Regions from separate parts of the Homo sapiens genome. Here all the other regions are linked to region 1. The links come from fine-mapping of genetic effects on gene expression. A gene starts in region 1. Each other region holds a variant in brackets. All regions are shown on one strand. Distances are from middle to middle. Region 1 holds the start of WDR45B (WD repeat domain 45B). Region 2 overlaps WDR45B (WD repeat domain 45B). Region 3 holds the start of METRNL (meteorin like, glial cell differentiation regulator).

Region 1 (8,176 bases):
TCGCACAGCAACCTGGTAAAGGGCAGAACCAGGACTCAAACGTACACAGCATGGATGCAGGCTGAGGAAATGCACCCTGACTTACAAAATAAACTCCCAGACATAAAGCACCACTTACTGTTCTACATCCCAGGGTTACAGGTAAGACTTTACTTGAAAAGAGGTTTCTGCTGCCAAAAATCCCTGATGTGACAGGAAAAGGCACAAGAAGTTCATGCTGATCGATAATTCACTAGAGAAATCAGGCCAGTGAACAAACCTGCTCAACACCTGTATCCCTCAGCACCTGTAGAAGCTCAACGAAAGAAAGAGGACAGCTCCCTCCAAGTTTATGAGGGGCCATGAACCCTATTTACTTCTCGAAAACAGCCATCCCTTCCCTGCTCCACCTGCAAGGTTAAATTTAAGACTCCGAGGGTTGGAAAGGGGAGAAACCAGAAAATGTCCCGTTAATTCTTACCTTGTTTCTCTTTTTCTTTTAGTGGATCAGTGTTATAGACTCGGAATCCATTTTCCATCCCACACGCAAAGCATCCTAAAGCAGAAGTGTAAAAGAGACATTAATCCCCAGGCCTGGAGTGGTTAAAAGAAAGAGGTCTGGAGAAATGACAACTACTGAGAACTCTTGCAGATGCTCAAACCACACAGACACGATAGGTGCTAAGTCACAACTCCTGTCCTTGTACAAATGTTACTAAGTGACAAGCACATCCATGCAGGGCATTTTGTTTGTCCTTTAGCAAAGGAGTCTTGGAGTTGTTCACACAACTTCCCCACTGCAGGGGCCTTCTGTGGCATCCCCATGGCCCAGGCTTGGAGGACGATCAGTGACAAACGTGAAGGACACTTCTAGAGGAAAGCCACCAAGCAGGCAATCCCGCCCACTGTGGACACCAGGTGAAGGGAAGGGCAGGGTGCTGGGGAGACAAGAGGTAGTCCTAGACTCCAGGAACCGGGAAGGTGAGGAAAGGATGCTCTTTCCCATTTACAGGGTGGTCTCCCGTGACTTTGCTCCCACCTATAAATCATCCTAACTCCTTAAAATCCTGTCAGAGTCTCAATGAGTTACCCAGGTCACTCATCCTGGTCACTGCCTCCAAGTCACACAGCAGGCTGTTAATGGTCCAAATAAACAGCACTGTTAGAAACTGAATAAAGCACTTAAGTGCGTAGATGATCGTGTGTTAATGCTCGTGTGTGACCCAGGGACTACATCCATCTCCTTAAATGCCATGTCCAACTGTTGGCTCTATGAAGCTGTGGCTGGAAAGAGAAAAAAACAAACCCCTCAATTATTTTTCACATGAAATGTTGCAAAGTCTGGATCTTTCCAATGACTGCACAAGTGGTGTGAAAGCCCAACACAAAGGCCTCTAAAACTCCCATTTGAGGCCGGACGCAGCAGCTCACGCCTGCAATCCCAGCACTTTGGGAGACCGAGGTGGGCGGATCACCTGAGGTCAGGAGTTCGAGACCACCCTGGCCAACATGGTGAAACCTACCCTCCACTAAAAATACAAAAATTAGCCAGGCATGGTGGCATGTGCCTGTAATCCCAGCACTTTGGGAGGCCAAGGCAGGTGGATCACCTGAGATCAGGAGTTCGAGACCAGCCTGACCAACACGATGAAACCCCGTCTCTACTAGAAATACCAAAAAATTAGCCAGTCGTGGTGGTGAGCGCCTGTAATCCCAGCTACTCAGGAGGCTGAGACAGGAGAATCACTTGAACCCAGGAGGGGGAGGTTGCAGCGAGCTCAGATCACGCCACTGCACTCCAACCTGGGCAACACAGCAAGACTCCGTCTCAAAAAAAAAAACAAAAATAAAAAATAAAAATAGAAATACCCAAACCACCTCCTAGAAATCCACAAGAAAAAGGCAAAATCCTCAATAGAAAAATGGGCAAAAGACTTAGACATGTCACAAGAGGATATCCAAGTGGTCAAGAAACACAAAATCAGGAAAATGCAAATAAACAACAGAGAGATGTACACAGCCACCAAAATGACCAAAAATAAGAGAAAACATCAAATGTGAGCTGGGTGTAGAGCCATGGGAACTCTTAGACCTGCTAGTTGAGGGCAAAGTGGTACAACCACTTTGGAAAACTATTTGTACTATCTACTATACTCTCAATTCTACTCCTAGGTATATAGAAGTACATGCCTGTGGAAATGTGAACATATGGTCACTGAGAGACATCTTCTAGATTAATCATTACTCTTATTACTCATATTATGCTTATGGTAGCCAAAAACTGGAACGTACCCAAATGCCCAACCATGGTAGACTGGATATATGAATTGTTGTATGTCTGCACAAAAGAACATTGTACATCAAGAATGATCTGGCCGGGCACGGTGGCTCACACCTGTAATCCCAGCATTTTGGGCAGCCGAGGTGGGTGGATCACAGGGTCAGGAGATCAAGACCATCCTGGCTAACACGGTGAAACCCCATCTCTATTCAAAATACAAAAATTAGCCGGGAGCGGTGGCGGGCACCTGTAATCCCAACTACTCGGGAGCCTGAGGCAGGAGAATCGCTTGAACCCAGGAGGCAGAGGTTGCAGTGAGCTGAGATCACGCCACAGCACTCCAGCCTGGGCAAGAGCAAGATCCGTCTCGGAAAAAGAAAAAAAAAAAGATCTACAACTATACTCAACAATACGGAAAAAAAAAATCACAAACATGATGTTGAGTAAGAAACCTAGAAACAGCCTGGCGCCGTGGCTCACGCCTGTAACCCCAGCACTTTGAGAGGCCGAGGTGGGCGGATCACCTGAGGTCAGGAGTTCAAGACCAGACTCAACACGGAGAAACCCAGTCTCTACTAAAAATACAAAATTAGCCAGGCATGGTGGTGCATGCCTGTAATCTCAGCTACTCGGGAGGCTGAGACAGGAGAATTGCTTGAACCTGAGAGGCGGAGTTTGCAGTGAGCCTAGAACGCGCCATTGCACTCCAGCCTGGGCAACAAGAGCGAAAACTCCGTCTCAAAAAAAAAAAAAAAAAAAAAAAACCCAAAACAAAAAAACAGCTAGAAACAAAAATAAGTACAAAAATAAAGTACAGAAGTAGGCAAAACTAATCTATGATGTCACAAGTCAGGTAGGGAGCATTTATTGGAATCAAGCGTGGCCAGGTATATTCAATTTCTTAATTGTTAGTGACAGGTGTGTAGTTTGGAAAATTCATCACCTGAACACTTATGATATATCCACCCTTCTACAGGTATAGCACACTTCACTAAAAAGAAGGCATTACAAACACCAGATGGTTGGAAACCACCCTCTGAGAAGGCTAGGCATCTCCCTTACCATCTCAGCAAAACTTTCTTCCGGAGAAACCCCAGCACACAACCCTGGGGAAGCTGGCAGCGCCCAGGAAGCCTGACTGGTCCCAGGGCATCAGGCATCAAAATCACTGAGAGGGAGTTCTTTCAAATATGTGTAATCCGGCCGGGCGCAGTGGCTCACGCCTGTAATCCCAGCACTTTGGGAGGCCGAGGCGGGTGGATCACCTGAGGTCAGATTGAGACCAGCCTGGCCAACATGGTGAAACCCCGTCTCTACTAAAAATACAAAAAGTAGCCGGGCGTGGAGGCAGGCGCCTGTAATCCCAGCTACTCAGGAGCCTGAGGCAGGAGAATGGCGTGAACCCGGGAGGAGGAGGTTGCAGTGAGTCGAGATCGCACCAGGCTGGGCGACAGAATGAGACTCCGTCTCAAAATGAAATAAATAAATAAATAAAATTGTCTTCACATATACGGGATCATACAGCACCTGCCTGGATTCTCTTCAAAAACAAAACTTCCAAAGCCAACATGTAAAGCCTCGCAGAAGCCTGTCTCGGAATAACGGACATTCCTTTTCCTCCCCATCAGGACCTTTGGGAAGCGCGCCCTTCAAATGGGAGGTGAGGAGGCAACCATCCGAATCCAGGTCCCGCCCGCCTCCCGCGGGAATCCGACCGCGCCGCCCCGGCCGCATCCCCCGCAGCTCCGAAGCACCTGCGGGGAAGGAGGTCACCTTCCCTGGGCGCTTTAAATCATCCAGTGCTTACACCTGGATTCCGACATGGGAAAAGAAGTAAGATTTCCCTCAAAGGCCTCCCTTAAGTCCTTTGACTCCACCAAACACGAAGAAAAATCCCGGGGAGTGGGGGTGGGGAGAGTGACATTTTCCGATGGAAACCGACGGGAAAGGTGAGACCTGCACCCCACCCGCGCCACTCGCCACCAGAGGCGTCGGAGACGCCGGCTCCGCGGCTCCAGTAAACCCAAGCGAAGTCAGCTCAGCCACGGGCTACCTACTAAAGACCCTGAAAGGAACAGGGGGCAAAACGGGGTTCTGGGCAGGGCGTCAATCACGCTGTGGGGAAAATCCCGATAACCGTGGAGCCCGCAGGGAGCCAGGGAACCCGAGTGGGCGTGGCGCGCGGGGAGGGGCGTCCGCGCAGGAGGCTGGGGTTCTGTGCCGTCTCCCACCGACCTCGACCTCGGCCCGGGACGGCCGGCTGGGAGCGGTCACAACCCGGGGGGTGGGGGAGCGCGAAAGGCCAGGAAGGTGGGAGCCGGTTCGGGCCTGGTCCGGACCCCGGCTCGGGCTGGGAGCAGCGGCGAGGGCCGGGGCCGGGGGCTTCGGAGGGGAGCTCGGGCGGGGCCGGGGTCCCGGGTGGAAGGCCTGGCCGGAAAGGGGCGCCCAGGAGAGGCCTGAGAGCCGGGGACCCCGGGCTGCGGGAAGGCCCGGCCGGGCAAGGCGACAGGGCCGCGCCTCCTCACCGTGGTCCTGGTTGAAGCCGGCGTAGAGCAGCCCGTTGCCGTGAGGGTTACACGGCAGGAGGTTCATGGCGCCGCCGTGCTGGGTCGCCGCTCCTCAGCGCTGCATGCCTCTCGCTGGGGACGGCGGCCTGGTCCCTTCGGGCCGGCGCTGAGGCCGCCGCGGCCGGAAGTGCCGGACGTACGTGCGTGCGTGCTGGATGTGCGTGTGTGCTGGACGTGCGTGCGTGCGTGCTGGACGTCCGTGCGCGCGCCCGCGCCCCACCAGGGAGCCTATGGAGCGCCGAGCGCATCTAACCGAAGCGAGGCGAGACGAGGCGAGGCAGGGCGGGGAGGGGCGGGGCGGGGCGAGGCGAGGCGAGGCGAGGAAAGGCGGGGAGAGGCAGGGCGGGCGGGGCGGGATGAGGCGGGGAGAGGCAGGGCGGGCGGGGCGGGATGAGGCGGGGAGAGGCGGAGCGAGGCGGGGCGGGGAGGAGGGGGCGGGGCGGGGCGGGGCGAGGCGAGGAAAGGCGGGGAGAGGCAGGGCGGGCGGGGCGGGGCGGAGGCGGGGAGGGGCGGAGCGAGGCGGGGCGGGGAGGAGGGGGAGGGGCGGGGCGGGGAGGGGCCAGGCGGGAGCGCAGAGCACGTTCGCGGGAGGGTCTGGCCTTGTCATGCGCGGGGTCGCCGCGGGAAGGAGGATGGCCCGTTGAGGGCTTGGCACGGATACCTGACGGTCGGAGGAAGGGGGGAGAGCCGGTAAAGGAGGCTGACCCAAAACTGAGGCCCGGTGCATCATCCCTCATGAGAGGCAAGCCCAGAAGCGCCACAATACTAGGGTCCCCCTTCAGGAGACAGAGACCCCCAGGACACAGAGGGCCCCCAAGTCACTCAGCCCCCCCAGGACACGCAGCTCCTGCAGGACGCAGAGGGTGCCCAAGACACACAGTCCCCAGGACAGAGACCCCCCAGGACACAGAGGACCCCCAAGACACGCAGTCTCCAGGACACAGAGGTCCCCCCAGGACACACAGTGCCCCCAGGACACAGAGGTCCCCCAGGACACAGCACTCCCAGGACACACAGCCCCCCCGGGACACAGAAACCCCCCCAGGACACAGCCCCCCTAAGACACACAGCCTCCCCCAGTACACAGAGTCCTTTCCAGGGCACATATTCCCCCAGAAGACACAGAGGTCCCCCTAAGACACACAGCCCCCCCAGGACACACAGACCGCCAGGTCACAGAGACCTTCCCAGGACACAGGGACCTTCCCAGGACACATAGCCCCCCAGAGGACACACAGCCCCCCCACGACACAGCCCATAGAGGACACAACCCCTTAGTACCCCACCTAAAGGACAGGTGGCCCTCACACAGCACAGCCCCCGCAGGACTCCGGGACCCTCAGGTCACATTGCTCACAGGGCACAGTTCTCAACTCTTAGGGTCAGGCTGCTGGGGGCATCCTGGTCACAGAGCTTTGTCCCTGGGCTTGGCTCATGCAGTGGATGGCTGTGGAGGCCTGAGTGCTGGCCCTCGTGTCTCTTGCCCAGGGAGTCCTCTCCACTCCCCCTCCTCACTTTCCTGTCCCCTCCTAGGCTCTCCCTGTTCCCTGCAGCACACCTGATCTCCTAGGAGGTCCTGACACTGTCCCCTCGCAGCCACCTGCCTCCACCCCGTCTGTCATCCTCATCCCACCCTCGCCACTTGCCTGAGCTGGTGCTGACCTCTTAGCCATGGGGAGGAAGGAGCTGGACTGTAAGCTGAGATCACTGGCCCACTCGGGCCAGGCGGTCTCCGCATCGTGGGCATTGAACACCTCGATTCCCATACGAGAGGGGCTCCTCCCTGAGAGCGACCAGAAGCCTTCCGATGGCGGAGCGAGTTGGGCCGCCCCGGCTGTGACTAGGGCTCGGGGGCCCAGGTCCAAATCACAGAGCTGGGGCGAGACCTAAGTGCGGTCCAGGGGCTCAGCACCCTCTTCCCTGAAGGGCACTGGGTTCTCCTCTGTGCACACGTACCGGTACCTGCTGTGAGAAGTGTCACGTGGGGGAAGGAGAGAGGCGTGGGTAAGGGACATTTCCCTTCATTTCTCTGCTTGCCACCCTTGGGGCCTCCTTCAGTTCACATTTTACTCAGTCTCCCGGTGGCTGTACAGCCGGGGGCGGGGGCATGTGTGGACATCCACACACAGCGCTGGTTGTATCCTAACCAGGAAACTCAAAGCAGCCTTGCCCACCACAGTGCGTTGAATGGTGACCCTCTAAAGATGTGTCCTGGGGGGCTGAGGAGGGAGGATGGCTTGAGCCCAGGAGATTGAGGCTGAGGCTGCACTGAACTGAGATTGTGCCACTACACTCCAGCCTGGGCAACACAGCAAGACTCTGTCGCAAAAAAAAAAAAAAAAAAAGATAGGTCCACCCAGAACCTGAGAATAGGGGCTTCTTTAGGTAAAGAATCATTGCAGAAGTAATTAAGGATCTCGAGATAAGATCATCCTGGATTTGGGGTGGGCCTTAAAGCTGGTGACCGGCACCCTTGGAGGAGACAGGAATGGAGGAGATACAGGGGACAGCAGCCAGTGGGACTGGAGTGCTCAGCCCTAAGTCAGCAAGTGCAGGAATCGTGGGGTCACCAGGAGCCGGGAGAGGCATGAACGGTTCTTCCCCAGAGCCTCCCAGCCTGGGAAGGAACACAGGCTGTTGTCCAAGCCACCAGCCTGTGGGGCTTTGTTCCAGCAGCTCCAGGAATCCCGCCGTCCACTGATAGCTCAGAGGTCTCCACGTGGAAGACCTGAAGTGTGACTTGGAGTGAGGGACACGGCTCATCTCGCCCACCCTTCTCCAAGGCAGGCAGAAAGCAGAGTCTCACCTCTGGGGGTGGAGAGAATAGAAATTATACACACACACACACACACACACGCATATATATGTATTTATATATATATGTATATATCTCCTGGGCTCAGGAGATCCTCCCACCTCAGCCTCCTGAGTAGCTGCAACTACAGGTACACACCACTATGCCAGCTTAATTTTTTGTATTTTTAGTGGAGACAGGGTTTCATCATGTTGCCCAGGCTGGTCTTGAACTCCTAGGCTCAAAGGATATGCCTGCCTCAGCCTCCCAAAGTGCTGGGATTACAGGCGTGAGCCGCTGTACCTGGCCTAACGATGTATTGTTTAAAGATACAACATATTTGGACACACATAAACATATAAAGAAAACCAGGAGGATGGTTTGCACAGAATTGGAGATGGTGGTTACCGCTCGGGGCAAGAGAAGAATCTACAGTAGGCCGGGCGCGGTGGCTCACTCCTGTAATCCCAGCACTTTGGGAGGCCAAGGCGGGCTGATTGCCTGAGGTCAGCAGTTTGAGACCAGCCTGGCTAACACAGTGAAACCCCATCTCTA
Region 2 (8,176 bases), 33 kb before region 1:
ATTAGCCGGGCGTGGTGGTGCACACCTGTAATCCCAGCTACTTGAGAGGTGGAGGCAGGAGAATTTCTTGAACCCGGGAGGTGGAAGTTGCAGTGAGCCGAGGTTGAGCCACTGCACTCCAGCCTGGGAGACAAAGCGAAACTCCGTTTCAAAAACAAACAAACAAAACATAAAGAAATTAGCCAGGCATGGTGGTGCATGCCTATGGTCCTAGCTATTTGGGAAACTGGAGCAGAAGGATCACTTGAGCCCAGGAGGGCGAGGCTGCAGTGAGCCTTGATTGCACCCCGGCACTCCAGCCTGGGTGACAGAGCCAAAAAAAAAAAGAAAAAAAGAAGCACGGCTGGGCACGGTGGCTCACACCTGTAATCCCAATACTTTGGGAGGCTGAGGTGGGAGGACTGCTTCAGGCCAGGTGTTCAAGACCAGCCTGGAGAACACAGACACCGTCTCTACAAAACAATAACAAAAATTAGCCGGGCGTGGTGGTGCACGCCTGTAGTCCCGGCTACTCAGGAGGCTGAGGTGGGAGGATCACGTGAATCCAGGAGACAGAGGTTGCAGTGAGCTGAGATTGCATCACCACACTCCAGCCTGGAGTGAGACCCTGTCTCAAAAAAAAAAAGGATAGGCAGCTGTCGTATATGCTGATAATGGTAAAAATAATGTGAGACATAAGTTCAAGTCCCTTGTGCAAATACTGAAACTGAGGTAGAAAAATGCTGATTTTCTGGAGTTACACTCTGCTATCAAGGTCAGGAGGACACCCTTTTCCACAGTATCTGGCCAGATCCTTGCCTGTTTTTTCCACATACCCGAGAGAGATTAGGAGATAATTAGCCCTCAGCTCGCATGCCCCAGAAGCGTCGTCAGACTCACCATCTGAAACATCTTACACAGATGACAGGCTTCTGGCTGGCAGCCAGCATGGACAACTCAAGATGGGGCCGCAGGTGTCTGTGGGAGGCTCAGAGCAAATGTCGGGGGATTCACGGCCTCTACAGACGGTGGCGTCTCTCTTGAACAGAGCTACAAAAGAAATGACATTTCACTAGATGCCACCTCAGTCTCAAGTCTACATTTGCTTTTGTTAAAACCCATTGTATGTCTACATTTTGGTGGATGTTGCGTAAGACAAATCATTTTAAAATTAATGCCAAAACCACAAAATCACTAACCTGATACGAAATTCCAGAATGCGGCAAGAATATTACAAGCTAAATTAGAAATAAGAATCCTCTATACATATACATCCAAAAAAAAAAAAAATCCCCAAGTATTAGTAGAATTCTTTTTTTTTTTTCCTGAGATAGAGTCTCTGTCACCCAGGCAGGCGTGCAGTGCTGCGATCTCGGCTCACTGCAGCCTCCATCTGCCCGGTTCAACTGATTCTCCTGCCTCACGCTCCCAAGTAGCTGGGACTACAGGCACGCGCCACCACGCCTGGTTAATTTTTGTATTTTTAGTAGAGACAGGGTTTCACCATGTTGGCCAGGCTGGTCTCGAGCTCCTGACCTCAGGTGATCCACCCACCTCAGGCTCCCAAAGTGCTGGGATTACAGGCGTGAGCCACCGCGCCTGGCGAATTCAGCAGTATTTAAGGATAACACACTGTGACCAAGTGGGCTTTCCCACAGGACAGCAAGGTTGGCTCAACATTCAAAAATCAACGTGATGCTCCACGTTCACGGCGTAAAAGATAGGTGTGATCATCACAACAGATGCAGAAAAGTCACTTAACAAAATTCAACAGCCATTCCTAGCGGCAGGCAGGGTCACCCCCAAGTCCCCACTCAATAAAGGAAAATCAGGAGGCATCCTCCAAGAAGACCCAGATGCTGGAATCGGCAGACAAGGACTTGAAAGCGCACAGAGCGCGTACAAATGGGCAGACACAAGTCATCAGCCACGAATTAGAAACCAACTTTAGAACTGACAAATGTATCTGAAATAAAAAAGGCGGCCAGGCGTGGTGGCTGTAATCCGAGCACTTTGGGAGGCCAAGGTGGGAAGATCGCTTGAGCCCAGGAGGTGGAGGAGAAACCCCGTCTCTACCAAAACAATTTTTTAAATAAAAATAGATGTTACGTTCAGGTGTGGGGTTGTCTGAGAGTGATCTTCTCTGGAGGTAGAAACACGGGGCAATTTTGCTTACAAATTTATATTTTTCTATTATTTTATAAGGAACTTTTTTTTCATTGTATTCTCTGATCCATCTGGAAGAGAAAAATTTTGGTACAAGTTTCAACAATGTCATCAACCAAATGCCTCTGACACAACAGAAGAGAGATGAGGACTAAGTCACGTGAAAGAGCTCTGGCATTCAGGGGCTTGGTTTGGTTGCAGAAAGAAAACACAAATATAAAACTCTTTGATCACAGAAGGCTGCAGATGGCCAGCGCCCCCGACTACAGTGGTGGGAGCGGGAGGTGGCCAGGGGTTCACACAGGCATCAACGCCAAACACAGGGTGGGTATGGGTCAGGGCTGCGTTCCACAGGGCACAAGCCGCCTGTCCCCGCAAGACATCCCAGGGCCACAGGGGAGGGAGGACAGACCAGAAACGCAGCCGGAGTCATCCATGCCCACGCACCTGTACGATCAGACAGGAAAGCTGCTGAGTAGGCACCGTCTGAGGCAGTCACTCTGGAGTCCCTTCGCACCCACGTCCGGGGCACAGGAGGTTCGTGGGGGAGGCAGCAGCCCGGCCTTGTTTCCCATACACTGCGCTTCCCATCAGTTCCACTTGAAAAGCAGCTGCGCTCCCGAGTCCGCCGGCCTAGGGACACCGTGTCCTTGCCGCTCTACAGTGATTTTTAAAAAGCACATGCCTGGGGAGGGCCGGTGCCGCCAGGGCCTCACATGAGGCACGTCCGTGCAGGCCCTCGCCACGTTCCTGGTGAACGGGCCTGTGACACAGCCCCGCCGTCCGCATCAGTTCTGAGGCTGTTCACGTGCACTGCGAGAAAACCCACCCTTCTTGCATGCATTTCCCCCAGATTCATGTTTATCAACTGGTAATTACGCTCCTACTCCCCCACCCAGAGTCAGATCTCAAGTGTTAGACAAGCCAGGGTGACGCCGGCTCACTTGAAGCTGCCACTTCAACATGCAGGGACATTGCTGCTGCCAGCCACCCTCCACCTCCACAGGCCAGCAGGAGCCTCAGACCTCCCAGAGCCACACAGGCCTCCTACAGATGCATTTCCTCCCTCCCTCCTCCAGAGGTGCCCTTGGGGCACAGGGAGAGAGGAGGGCAGGCCGCCCCGTCCCGACACAGGGAGAGAGGAGGGCAGGCCGTCCCATCCCCGACACAGGGAGAGAGGAGGGCAGGCCGCCCCGTCCCGCCACAGGGAGTGAGGAGGGCAGGCCGCCCCGTCCCGCCACAGGGAGTGAGGAGGGCAGGCCGCCCCGTCCCGCCACAGGGAGTGAGGAGGGCAGGCCGCCCCGTCCCGACACAGGGAGTGAGGAGGGCAGGCTGTCCTGTCCCGACACAGGGAATGAGGAGGGCAGGCTGTCCTGTCCCGACACAGGGAGTGAAGCTCCAGGCTCCGCACCCAGTGACCCTGGCTTCCACCTTGTCCTGTCACAGGCCGGCGCCTCTTCAGGCCCACAGGCTGTTCTGAAGCCTACACTCCAACCAGATTCTCACAGCAAGGGGAAGAGTGTTTGGCTTCATAACACACAATTCTACTTCCCATTACAGGTCCAGACTACAACAAAATTAGTCACTTTTATTTAAAAGAAACATTACAAATAAGTGTGCAAAATTAAACATCATGATTAAATACACATGAAAGGAACATGCATACTTTACAGCAACATCCACAGAGAATTAGCTGATTACATGACAGTGACAGTAAAGAACTAAAGAAACCGGCAAAACCGAG[A/G]ACTCGCTGCTATGCAGGTTTTACATGTTTGCAATCTGAAATCAAAACCATAAAATAGAGTTTAACGGGAATTTAAGAAAATTAAATATATATCCCAAGTAGCTGACAATGTAGAGCCCATAACCTAGTTACCAAATGTTAAAAAAAGTTATGTGCCTCTCCTTCCCAAAATGTTAGTGTGTAGCTATTCTTACAAATGAGGGGAGGGGAGACGGTGGACCTGGGGGCTCGGAGGCCAGACCAGGGCATTTCCCTCCACACCAGCGGGAACTGCATGGACCCTCCCAGACCCTGCTCTGGCAGACGACCCCGAAGTTAAAGGATGTTTTCCCCATAACGAATGTTCAAAGTTCGTGCATCACTCTGCTGTTCCCTACACATAACCGGGAAACAGGTTTAATCCAAAATGTAACCAGGAGACCCCCCGTCCCCGCCCCGCACACGCCTGAGGTGTGACGGCTCGGCTTCTAGAGTGGCCTGGTGTCTGCCTCATTCTAATGGCCCCAACGGAGACGGGGACGCCACGCACGGGCACAGGTGACGTCACGGGCACAGATGACCACGTTGCGGGTACGGAGAAGACCACAGGCTGGGCTCACACGAGGGGAAACATTCACACTGTGTTCTCTCTACAGGGTCAGGTCATTTTTCTTCATGTTCGGGCGGGAAAAGGAATTCCTTTCTCCTTTTCTAAGGCAAGCTGCTGGTGTTGTATTCAATCTGCTTATCATGTAAGAACTTACATCTGCACACTTGTTCACTCCCCCGCTGCAGACTCAGTAAGAACGACGGAATCTGCTGCAAAAACAAACCTGAACTCGTCCACCCTCTCAGCCCAGTCCCCAGGTCCGTATGGAGCCCCCGTCAGTGTGAGGATGCGGCGGAGCCACTGAAGCTAACGTCACAGCTGAACTCATGGGAACAGCCAGTGGCCGCCAGTCGAGCTGGTCACAGCCACTGAGTTACCTACGGTGCCTTGATGATGATTCTCTCTTTAATACTGGAAATGGGAGTCCTTAGGAAAGCAGACAACCACGTATGGCTTCGAGACCAAGGTCCCTGGGCAGCCCCTCCAGCCCGTGGCCCAGGAGGCCCCTGGGGCACTGGCACCAGCCCCGAGAGTCTGAAGGCGGCAGGTGGTGGGTGCTGTGGCGCCCCCAGCTGGAGTCACAGCTTGTCATCGGTCATCTCTAGAAACTGCGCGTAGACATCTCGGATGCACTCCCCCTTGGGGTTGAACAGGAATTTGTAGTAGCTGCCGTCTGCACAAATTGCTGGGATAGAAGGAGACCATTTTACCTGTGTGTTTCTTTCCCTCAAGTTAAAAGCAACGAGTCCCACTGAGCTGAACTGCAAAGGGCCTCTTGGAGCCAGGCAGCTGCTCTGAAAGCCCTGAAAGGCCCCAGGGTCCCCACTGAATGCGTTCGGTCGGCACCGTGGCCGGGAATCCTGACTGTCTTGGTGTGAGCATCTAATCACCCGGTGTTGGCTACAGGGTTAAGAAACATTCTTGGTCATCTATACAAACATTGGAAGACCTGTCCCTGTGATTTCCTGGGGGAAACTGGAGGGATGGGGGCTGAAGACATCCCAAATGGCCGTGCAGACCGTAAGCGGGACACACTGAGCCCACAGGAGAAATAAGGGGAACTGGGCGGCCATCGGTGCCACAGCGCGGTGCTGGGACGTCCATGGGAAGTTAGGTCTGACGCTCAGTGGATGGAGCCCAGGTGGGGCGGGTGGGGACGTTCTCTCCAGGAAGGACCACTCACCAATGACGGCGTTTGGCTCTGTTCCAAAGGCACAAATGCACGGAGAGCCTGAGGGAACCTGAAACTTGGAGAAACTCCACTTGGAACTGAAGTATTTTGGAAGGAAACTGGCTGAGGCCAAACTGTGAAGACAAGAAAAGAAAGGGTGGTTCAAAGTTTACAGGAAAAAAAATCACCTGCGTAAGCTCAGAATACGCTGCTGAAAATACGAAAATGCTCCTTCATATGGTTTGAGCTTTAATGAATTTTTTTTTTGCCATGCATGACAAAGCCTGTTGTACAATTTTATTTAAAAAAAAAATTTTTTTTTTTGAGACGGAGTCTCGCTCTGTAGCCCAGGCTGGAGTGCAGGGGCGCAATCTCGGCTCACTGCAGCCTCCACCTCCCGGCTTCAAGCGATTCTCCTGCCTCAGCCTCCCGAGTAGCTGGGACTACAGGCACCCGCCACCACGCCCGGCTAGTTTTTGTTTTTTAGTAGAGATGGGGTTTCACCATGTTAGCCAGGATGGTCTCGAACTCCTGACCTCAGGTGATCTGCCCACCTCGGCCTCCCAAAGTGCTGGGATTACAGGCATGAGCCACTGTGCCCAGCCTGCACTGATTTTTAAACCCCAACAAATATAAAATTAAATGAAAAAGATTTCAGCGCTGATAGCATATGAGGTCTGTCCACACCACCCTGCTGGGGTGGGGGGCCTGTCCCGTCCACACTGAAACACTGGGGACTCCTCTCATCCCCCGGCTTTTCCCCAGCAGGCATCCTAACACCTACCTGGACTGTTTATTCCTTTTTGGATCTTCAGCTGCAAAAATATGCACTGTGCCGTGGTCGCTGGATACGCAGATGAGGGACGCATCCTGATTGAAGTTGATGCTGCAGAGAAAACCAGCACAGCTCAGGCCTTGTGTGGATGTGGAGGAGTCCAGAGACTTAACCCACAGCACTTGTCGACACTGTGGAACACCTCAACATTCCCACTCTGGAGGTGCCAATTCTGAATACTGCCCTTTCTTTAACAAGCCGACAACCATCCCCACAGCACCACAGGTTGAAGCCACAAAGCCACAGCCACAATCCAGTGTATCACGGCAAGTTTTCCTTGGGTGCCCCACAAATGCAGCTGATGAGCTGTGTGTCTGGGAGAGGGAAGGGACTTCTTGCAGACCACACCCCCAACATGCCGCTCAGGGCTGCTCTCACAAGACTCGGGTGAGAAACACACATTCTCTCCAATGATCCTGGCCTCAGGAAGGTGCAGGCTGCCCCTATGGAGGTCAGCTGGGCTGGGGCAGGCATTGGCCGTGTGCTGTCTGTTCTAGGAGCAGACAGGGATGTGCTATGCACACCACAAGGCCCAGGACCTCACAGATAAAGCTGCCGTATTTATAAATTAATTACATTTTCTTTCTTTTTTTTTTTTTTGAGACAGAGTCTCGCTCTCTTGCCCAGGATAGAGCGCAGTAGCACGACCTTGGCTCACTGCAACCTCCACCTCCCAGGTTCAAGCGATCCTCCTGCCTCAGCCCTGCCTAGTAGCTGGGATTACAGGCACACGCCACCACGCCCAGCTAATTTTTGTATTTTTAGTAGAGATGGGGTTTCGCCATGCTGGCCAGGCTGGTCTCGAACTCCTGACCTCAGGTGATCCACCTGCCTCAGCCTCCCAAAATGCTGGGATTACAGGCGGGAGCCACTGCGCCCGGCTATATTAATTACATTTTCATCTCAAAGACCCAAATGCTGCTCAATACTAGCCAAGGGGGAGGCACCAGGCCTCCTGGCCGTGGCCACAGGGCATGAGATGCTACCCAAGTAGGGCTTCAGCACTAGACACCCGGGGGGCTGTAGGGACACCACTGTGGGGCGGCAGTGTGGCCTCTCAGACTGTAACAGGCTGGAATCAGACAAACCAACATGGTCTCCAGCATTGCCTTAAACACAAGCCAGAGCGCTGGTGACGAGATGAAACTGGCAAAAACACCAGAAAGACTAAAAATAAACAGGGATGAACCCAAGCCCGCCAGCCAGGGCAGCAGCGAGACCCCTCTACAAAAACACAACAATTAGCCGGGCGTGGTGGTGCACAACTGTGGTCCCAGCTGCTCAGGAGGCTGAGGCAGGAGAATCGCTTGGGCCCAGGTCGAGGCTGTAGTGAGCTGTGATAGCGTCACTGCACTCCAGCCTGGGCGACAGAGCAAGACCTTCCCTCAAAATAAAAACCCCAAAAAAACAACAAAAAAAACCCACCAACAACAAAAACCATCAAATACTAATAAATGCTGAAGCAGGGTTAATTATGACATTCTTTCTACTTCTGTGTAATTTCCCACGATAAAAACTTAAAGTTAATCACAATTTAAAAAGCTGAAACCCAACCCCCTAGCAGCCCAAGCTTCTCCCTCCTCTGGCCTTATTCGGGGGAGGGTGGCTGCTCCTACCCCCTCTCCCAAATCCCAAAGGCCCACTTCCGTGCTGTCAGCCCGAAGTTCTTCTCCGGTGAAGTTGGAGGTGCCC
Region 3 (8,176 bases), 430 kb after region 1:
GGTCCCTGCCTCTGTGGGTCCTGTCTGGCTCTGGCCCAGGCTGACAAGGAGGAGCATCTATGCGGGGAGCTGGTGCGGTGCGGGGCATGGTGGGGTGTGGGGGCTGGAGGGTGTGGGGCGGGGGCGGAGGGGGCTCAGTCATCTTTCATGAGCCTGAACTGAGGCCCAGGACGCACAGTCCACCATCCTGGGTCTGGACAGCGGGTCCCTCTGGGCCGTCTCACTTCCGCAAGCTTCAGCGGAGGCACAGCTCTGGCATTGGGGCTGCAGGGACCTCCTGGCACCACTGGGAGTAGAGTGGAGCCCCGGCACAGGCCTGGCCACCTCTCCAGGAGAAGGCACATGGGTCCTCAGGTCCCTGTTGGGACAGCTGGCGCCAAGGCTGGGCCCGCACGTTGCAGCAGGCAGGGTTGGGGTAGGGTGCTCAGCACCTGCCGTGTGGACGGGAGGGACCCCTCCACTCCCGAGGAGAAAGCCCACCAGCTGGCCTCGCTCCTGCCTGCCTGGAGGGGCTTCTGGAGGGAGTGTTTCCTCCGCCGAGTCCAGGCAGGCATGGCTGGAGGAAGAGCGTGAAGCCAGCATCCCTGGGTGACCCTGTGCACTCCAGCTTGGCTGGATTTGGGGAGGCACACCCAGGCCCTGCCCCACCCCCGCCTTCACTTGCTCGGGCCCCACCCCGCTGGGCCCCTATCTACTCGACACTGTGGGGGTCCAGTTCTCTCTCCAAGATCGGCCAAGTCCACGTGACCTGGCCCCCGGACGCTCCCTGCACGCCCAGCCCCACCGACACCCTTCCCCAAACCCTGGAGCCTGGGGACGCAGTGGGGTGTCTTGGCACACAGGTGACTCGGGAGACAGATCCCCTGACCCTGCCTGCCAGTGTGCCTGCCCACTGTCCGCTGAGCTGGGTGTCGCCTGCTTCTCCTCGTTCTGGGTGGGACCGTCTGTCCAAATGGCTGTCAAGGCCTTCTTCACTATCTCAGCGTGGGCAGAAAGGGACGGACATGTGAGACAGCTGCCCTGTGCCTCCAGCGCCCCCGCATCCCACGCACGCTCCACAGCCAGAGCTCTCAGCCCCTCCAGCTGGGGGCAGCTCTGGGCTACCCGGCCTCTTTTCAGGGGCAGGACAGCCGGGCTAATTACCTGCATGGGAGGGCCCCACTGGACAGGCTCCTGGTGAGGGTGTCTACCGCCACCCCCGCCTGCCTGGGCTGAGTCATCCAGGCGCAGCGTCGATGTGGGGAGGGCCTGTCCCTGGGGCTGTCCGTGGAGACTCGCCCTGTGGACTGGAGGAGGAGGCAGAACCCCGCCCGGCGGGGCAGGTCCTGGTGGTGACTGCGCCGACCACGGTCCCGCCCTTCCCCACGCGCTGGGCAGCTGCCCAGCCCGGTCCAGGTTAGGTGCCCCAGCATCTGGACGTCCACCCTCCCCGGGACACCCAGCCCAGTGGGGTATGGGAGGAGAGAGCTCTGTCTGCCCTCAGCTTCCTGCAGTGTGGCTACTCCAGCCCATCTGACCCTGGGCGGTCCCCGGTTCCCGGCTTAACAGATGTTGACAAGGCCTTGCCTCCTTCGGGGTGGTGCCAGGGGCAGAGGGGCACAGCAAGAACAGGGCACAGCCCCTCGCACACCCCCACGTGCCTCCGCTGTCGGCAGGCCCCACTGGGGTCTGGGAGATGCCTTCCTGTAGCATGAAACCAAAGGCCACAGAAGCAGAGAAAAAAAGCTCTTCGTTTCGATTATAAACTTGCAAGAAAAAAGGAGCCCAAACTGTTCAGTGAGACACGCCGACCGATCTGAGCCCACGAGGAGCCCCAGGCAGCAGAGCCCCCTCTTTCTGTTTATTCTAGAGGGTGGCCAAGGTGGCCCTGGGAGAGGTGCCTTCCAGAATTCAGATGCCAGTGGGGCGGGCTGCCAGGAGGGCCACGGAGCGGGGCTCTGGTCTCTGATGCCAACCAGTGAACCCTGGGAGGGACCACCCTGTGCCCTGCCCAGCCTGTCAGAGGGGGCCCAGCCCGGTGATGAGCAGTCAAGTGTGGGGCCCACGGGGAACAAGGCGGCGTGCATTTACTCTATGGAGGGGCACCGTCTCCACACGGCAAGCTGGGTGTGCCGACGGCGCTGGATGGCACCATACGTTGTCCCCGTTGAGGGGTGACTCCTGCTCCCATGATTAGGGCCAAAGGGTCACAACCTCTGCAGCTCCCACGTGGCTCAGGGGAAATGCCAAAACAGAGGAACAGCCCTCGGCCGCAGCCGGGGGATGCGTGGGTGCCCTGCACACTGGCCTTCAACGTTTGTGAGTTTCAGGCCTTCGGTAGTTGGCATATGGGACACTCCCTCTCCCCGCAGGCCGTGGGGATACCGGCTCCTTCCGAGGCGTTTCTGCCGTGAGCGTCCTCCAGAACGAGTGGGCTGAGGCCCTCGGCTGACGTCCTGGGTGACCGCAGACCTGCTGTGTGTGGCCGGCCGGCCGGACCTTAGCACGTCATCACTGGGCTCACGGTCCTGCCCCTGAGCACATCTGACCGGCCGTGGTCAGGGTCCACGCAGACGTCCACCTCTGTGTACAAATCCACCGTGTACTGTAGATGGCCCCTCCTGACACCACCCCGCGGAGGCCGAGGACCCTCCTTCCCTGTGGGGTCTGAGTGCCCGAGATGGCAGAGTCACTACAGCTCACCAGCCCTGGGGCCATGGTCGGTTCATGGCCGGGCGGAGGGTGAGATGCTGCCATGAACAGCTGCTACAAACAACTGCTAGGACGGTGTGGGGCCAGCGTGCCACACAGAACTGTCTCTCACTGCCGAGCTGGCGGCTGGTGGCCTCTCTCCACCTGGCCAACCTGGGGGCAAGCACCACCCAAGGTCACATAGCCGGCCAGCATCGGCCTGGACTTGTATCTGACTCAAGGAAACTCCCTACTCCCACTTTTCTCTGACGCACAGAGAGCAGCACATGGCAGCAAATTAGGTTAAGGAGGGGGTTAGGGAAGAATGACACACTGAAGGTCATCAGGTGGAGGCTGGCTGGCATCCGTGGCTGTTTCGTGTAGTAATTACACGTTGCTCATTGAAGTTGAGTTACAAGCACAGGCTCTCCATGTATCATTCAACCACAATTACGATAATTACGAGAAGGTTGGCGAAAATGGCCTGGGAGGGAAACGGGTGGCAAATGACTTGGGAGGTGGTGGTTGGGCGGGGCCGTGGGATGAACTGTGCTCACGTGAACGACAGACTGCGACGTTCTTCAGTATTTTTCAAATGCTGAAAGAGAAAATTTCATGGACGCGCTTGGGGAAACCGTGTGATGTTTTTCTGGAGGAATCCAGCTACTCTGGGAGGAGCTGTTTCTTTAGTGAGTGGATTCAGGTGACTGGTCATCTTGGGCAGCACATTGGCCGTCAACACACATTTGAAAACCTCAAGACTGGGCCAAAAATAAAAGCAGTAAAGTCCACCGGGTTGTGCCAGTGGCTCAGAGAACTCGCAGCTGTGGGGAGCACGGCGGGAGGGGTTCCCCCCACCCAGCCCCATGAGGGCCCCAAGGCCTGATGACAGCCCGGTGGTGCCTTGAACAGGTGAGAATCAGCCCCCACCTGGGGACGTGGCGTTGAATCCTGACATCGTAAACCCTACGACGCCCTGGGAATCAAGAACAGATCCACTTTGCAGGTAACTGAGGCTCAGAAACAGACTCCAACCCCACCATGTCTGTGACCCAGAGCTGGGGGCTGACGTCCGAGCCAGGTCCGTCCACCACCCCACAGGGCCTGTAGGCACCCGGCATAGGAAAGGCCGAGAAAGGGGTCCAGTCCCACAGCCCTCCACCCCAGCAAATTCCCAGGTGCTGGGTCCCTGCAATGCACGCGATAAAAACTCCCGGGTCAAATACACAGAGGTGACCCTGCCGAGGTCACTCGATCCTAACAGTGGGTCGTGGTCCTCGGACATGGGAGGCCACGTCCTGCTTTCTGAGGCCTCAGACCCTGGTGAGGCACAGAAGGACTGTCCAGGGTGCACCCAGAATTTTTTTCACGGACGTCTGCCCAGGAGGCTTCTGAGAGCTGTTTCTCGAGGGAATGGATAGATGAGGAAAGAGAGAGGGTTGATGTAGACCTACGGTTGGGCCACAGGCCCCCCTGGCCCAGGTCCCTTAG[C/A]TGCCATCTCCCAGGATGCAGAAGCATCACTGCAGGGCCCGCCGGTAGAGGGAATGGGCAGGCGTGATCCTGGTGGGTTCTGGAGCTCTCCGATTCCACGGCTCAGCCTCAACGTTCCGACTCAGGTAGGAAGTATCAGAGCTTCACGCAAAGCTGCGAAGACCAGCTCCTTCCCACGAGTGGGTGGGTGGGATGATGCTGTGGCCCCTTCCTGGGTCTAACCCCGTGACATGCTCACTGGGAAGCAGTCCCTTCCCAGACATCCAGGGACAAACACACCCAAGGCCCTTTCCTTGCAGACCCTCCCAGAGGACCAGGGGGAGGGCCACACACCATGACCAGCTGGGATCCTTTTGGTTCATAATCGGCCTCTCGGGGTCTGGTGGTACAAGGGGCAGTGTACCAGTGGCTGGGAACACCCCCAGACAGCCTTGACCACCTCAGCCTGCATCCTCTAGGAGCCTGATACCTCCTGACACCAGGAACCCCGTCTACAGGGGACGTCTCACCTGTAGGTGGCCTCGCTGGGCCAGGACAGGGGTCAGCAGAGGTGCCCAGGAGCACCCAATGTCTCTGGGGCATGAACCTCCTCAAGGGAACAGCTTGGGGAACCACAGCCCCAGGGTGGAAAGGGCCAGGCTCCTTTCCCAAGACAGATTAGCTTCTTCCGAGAATACTGGCCAGCAAGCATTCTTACTCTAGTTTTGTTTTGTTTTAATTAGCAGACTTAATGTTTTAGGTTTACAGAAACACCAAGCAGATGGTAGAGGTCCCCCACACACCCTCTCCCTGACCCAGTTTCTCTTATGATTACCTTCTCTCATTAGGGTGTAGGCGTGTGACAGTCAAAGAACCAATATTGATCCGTTATTATTACAAATGTCTCAAGCCTCCATCAGGATTCACTCTTGTGCTGTATTTTCTACGGGTTTTGAAAAGTACACGTGGGTCCCATACTCACCATCGTACGATCCCAGTCTTAGGACAGCCCGCTGGGCACAGGAGGCTGGGCATCCTGCCAGGTGGCAGATCTCTGCCCCAGCCTAGGCTGGAACCAGCTGCCTGCTGACCAGAGGCGGCCTCTCCCCTTCGGTCTAGCAGCCACCAGGGGCTCTGAGACCCTGAGCAGGTCACGGCAGGTCCTGAGTTCCCCATGTCCGCATCTATAACTCAAGAGATCCCAGCACTGCCCTGCCTCTTCCGTGGTGTGATGATCTGGACCCTGATAGGCCATGTGGCCCTTCAAGGGTGGACCGGGCCTGGGGGGGCTGCTATCTTATGCTTGGTGGGCATGGAAAGCAGTTGCTGCGCACAGGTGTGAAGCCGCAGGTCCCTTTCCACAGCAGGTCCCTTTCCACAGCAGGTCCCTTTCCACTGGGCACCCTGGTACCTGCAGTGATGGGGGTGGGGGGAGGTGCACTCCTAGAGCAGACGGGGGTGGGTGGGGCAGTCTCCAAGCTCCGAAATGCACCTCCACCAGACCTTGAGCCTCAGGGTGATGTCACTTGATGTGCTGGGCAAGGTCCTGGCTCCAGGCTTTCGATGGGGTGGGTGCTCTGAACAGATCCTTACAATGAAACTACCTTCAGTGGTCACTGTCATCGCCTTCCAGTTCTTCAGACCCTCACCCTTGTCCCAGCTTTCCTGGGCTGGGGGCTGGGCTCCACCTGCCTTTGCCGGTGACTTCCGTCCCTGCAGACTCACAATTTTCAAAGCCCTCTCCCCGCCTCCTCTGGTAGTCACAACCCAGTTATTCAGACTTGCACAGGTCGTTCGCAAGTCCTCCTGGAAGGTATCTTGGCTGGAAAAGGGGACAAGGCCAAGCTTCCCCACCGCTGGATGCTGCGCTCGGCTCTGGAACTGACACCAGGCGTCTCGGGCAGGGCCACTGACCCGCAGCACACAGAAGCCAGCTTTGCCATCGCAGCGGGGACCGCCGGGCGGGCCAGCTCCGCCCTCTCCTGCCTGGGGGGCCCTCGGCACCCTCTGGCTCCCCTTCTCTGGCCTGAGTCTCTAGGGCCTCCCCAGTCCGGGCGGGGGTCTCCGCTGTCCCCCCCACTGGGTCAGGCACGTGGTGGCCGCGGTGACCACCTGGGGAAGGCGCCGACTCCGAGGAACACACTCGAGCAGGACGCTCCGCAGGTGATTCTGCCCCGCGGGCACGGGGTGGGGGCGGGATTTGGCCAAATCTGCAGAGAGTTTAGGTTGTCAAAGCTGGGGCGGGGGTTGCTACTGATACCCAGAGTGCGGGGGCCAGGGTGCTGCCAACATCCCACCATGCGCAGGACGTCCCCACCCCAAGAACCACCCGGCCCCGCGTATCCGGAGCGAGGAGTGGGCAGCGCTCGGCAGAGGCCCCGGCGCGGCGGCTGCACGTCCTCCGGGAGGAGGGAGGGAAGCCGGGCTCACCGCCGGGCCTCCCCCCCGGTCAGGAGGGAGCCGGGAACTCCCGAGGCACCAACTCTGCGGAACGCGGGGCGCCCGGATCGCCCCTGATCACCGCCCGCTGGCGAGGCGCGGGGGACCCAGAACCGGCGGGGCCGGGAGCCTCCTTTACCGCTCCGCGCCGGGGCTGCCCGCAGGATGGGGCGCAGGATGGGGCGCAGGATGCGGCCCCGGCACCGCCTCGCGGGGGTCTGCGGGGGGCGACCGCGGCTCGCGTCGGCCACTACTTGGGGGTCTCGGGTTTCCGCCCCGCCCTCGCCTTGCAACCCCTCCGGCCCCGGACTCCGCTTTCCAGGCCGGGCTCTTCCCTCCGGACCCCGCTCGCCGCCCGGCGCGGCCCCCTCCTCCTGCAGCGCCCCCCGCCCCGGCGCCCGCGCCCCCGATTCGCTGCTGACTCGGTGTCTGCGCGTCCGGCCGGGCGCCCCGGGAGGAGTTTCCGGCGCGGGGCGGGGTCGGGGGCGGGGTCGGGGGCGGGGCGGGGCGGCGGGTGGGCCCCACCCCCCAGCTGAGCCCGGCCGGGCGGACTCGGACTCGCCAACTTCAGAGGCTCGGCGGCGGCGGCGGGCGCGGAGCTCTGCGCGCGGCTCCAGCGGGCCGGGATGGGCGGGCGGCCGCGCGGAGGACGCGGGGGGCGCGCGACGTGACCACCCGGACTCGAAGCCCGCCCCGCCCCCGCCCGGCTCGCCGGCTCCGGGGTCTGCTCCGGGGGTCGCGGACGCGGGGCCGGGCGGCGGAGCCGGCGCCAGAGCATGCGGGGCGCGGCGCGGGCGGCCTGGGGGCGCGCGGGGCAGCCGTGGCCGCGACCCCCCGCCCCGGGCCCGCCCCCGCCGCCGCTCCCGCTGCTGCTCCTGCTCCTGGCCGGGCTGCTGGGCGGCGCGGGCGCGCAGTACTCCAGCGACCGGTGCAGCTGGAAGGGGAGGTGAGTGTGCGCGGCGCGACCCCGGCCCGGCCCCCTCCCCTCGCGTCCCCTCCCGTCCCGGGCCGGCCGAGCGTGCGGGGGCGCGGCCGGGGGCGGGCGCGGGGCAGGGGCTCCGGGGGCCGCTCTCCAGGCCCAGTCCGGTGCCCGCTGTCCCCCGCCCCCGGTTCTAGAACAAAAGAGCCCGCGGCGTCCCGGTTCCCGGCCCGGAGGACGCCCGGGGGAGGCGCGCCTGCAGCGCGGCCGGGTGGGTCCCGGCTCCGCGCGTGTCCGAGCCTCGGGGGCCGCCGGTCCCGCGACCCCATCCCGGGGGCAGGCGGGGGTCGGTCCTCGGGCCCTTCCTGGCAGGCTCCGGGAGTTGCGCGCCCCGAGGCCGCCCCGGGCCAGAGCGGGAAGGGACGGCCGCGGGAGGGAGCGGCGGTTTCGGGGATCGGGCGCGGACCGCAGCGGGGGCCACTTCCGTCTCGGGGAGCCGCGGGCGGGCACCTGTGAGCCGGGCCGAGTGTGGCTCCGGCCGGGCCCCCCGCCCCTGCCCCGTGAAGGTCAGGCCGCCCTTGGCCGCGGCGCGCGCTGCGCTGGGCGACCCCCCCCCCCCCCACCCGCGGTGGCGGCCGAGGACTTTTTTTTTTTTTTTTTTTTTTTGACTCAAGCGTG

The links. PIP is the estimated chance that this variant, and not a neighbour inherited with it, causes the effect.
Region 2: its variant is fine-mapped to the expression of WDR45B in monocytes after LPS (Fairfax 2014, PIP 0.95).
Region 3: its variant is fine-mapped to the expression of WDR45B in whole blood (Lepik 2017, PIP 0.92).

The regions. Positions count from the first base shown.
Region 1 is chr17:82,643,489-82,651,664 of GRCh38, forward strand. WDR45B (WD repeat domain 45B) reads right to left here and starts at 4,956. Exons shown (of 10, transcript NM_019613.4): 1 at 4,786-4,956; 2 at 461-535. The coding sequence starts at 4,852. RefSeq lists silencers at 4,409-4,458, 4,469-4,518, 5,119-5,188 and enhancers at 4,601-5,100, 5,479-5,548.
Region 2 is chr17:82,610,863-82,619,038 of GRCh38, forward strand. It overlaps WDR45B (WD repeat domain 45B), which reads right to left. Exons shown (of 10, transcript NM_019613.4): 8 at 6,434-6,535; 9 at 5,662-5,783; 10 at 3,700-5,163. The coding sequence ends at 5,057. Among named protein-coding and RNA genes, the nearest start is that of FOXK2-AS1, 27 kb to the left of the region's middle. The variant A/G (reference allele first, on the strand shown) is at 3,890.
Region 3 is chr17:83,072,461-83,080,636 of GRCh38, forward strand. It overlaps METRNL (meteorin like, glial cell differentiation regulator), which reads left to right and starts at 7,149. Exons shown (of 4, transcript NM_001004431.3): 1 at 7,149-7,525. The coding sequence starts at 7,356. The variant C/A (reference allele first, on the strand shown) is at 4,162.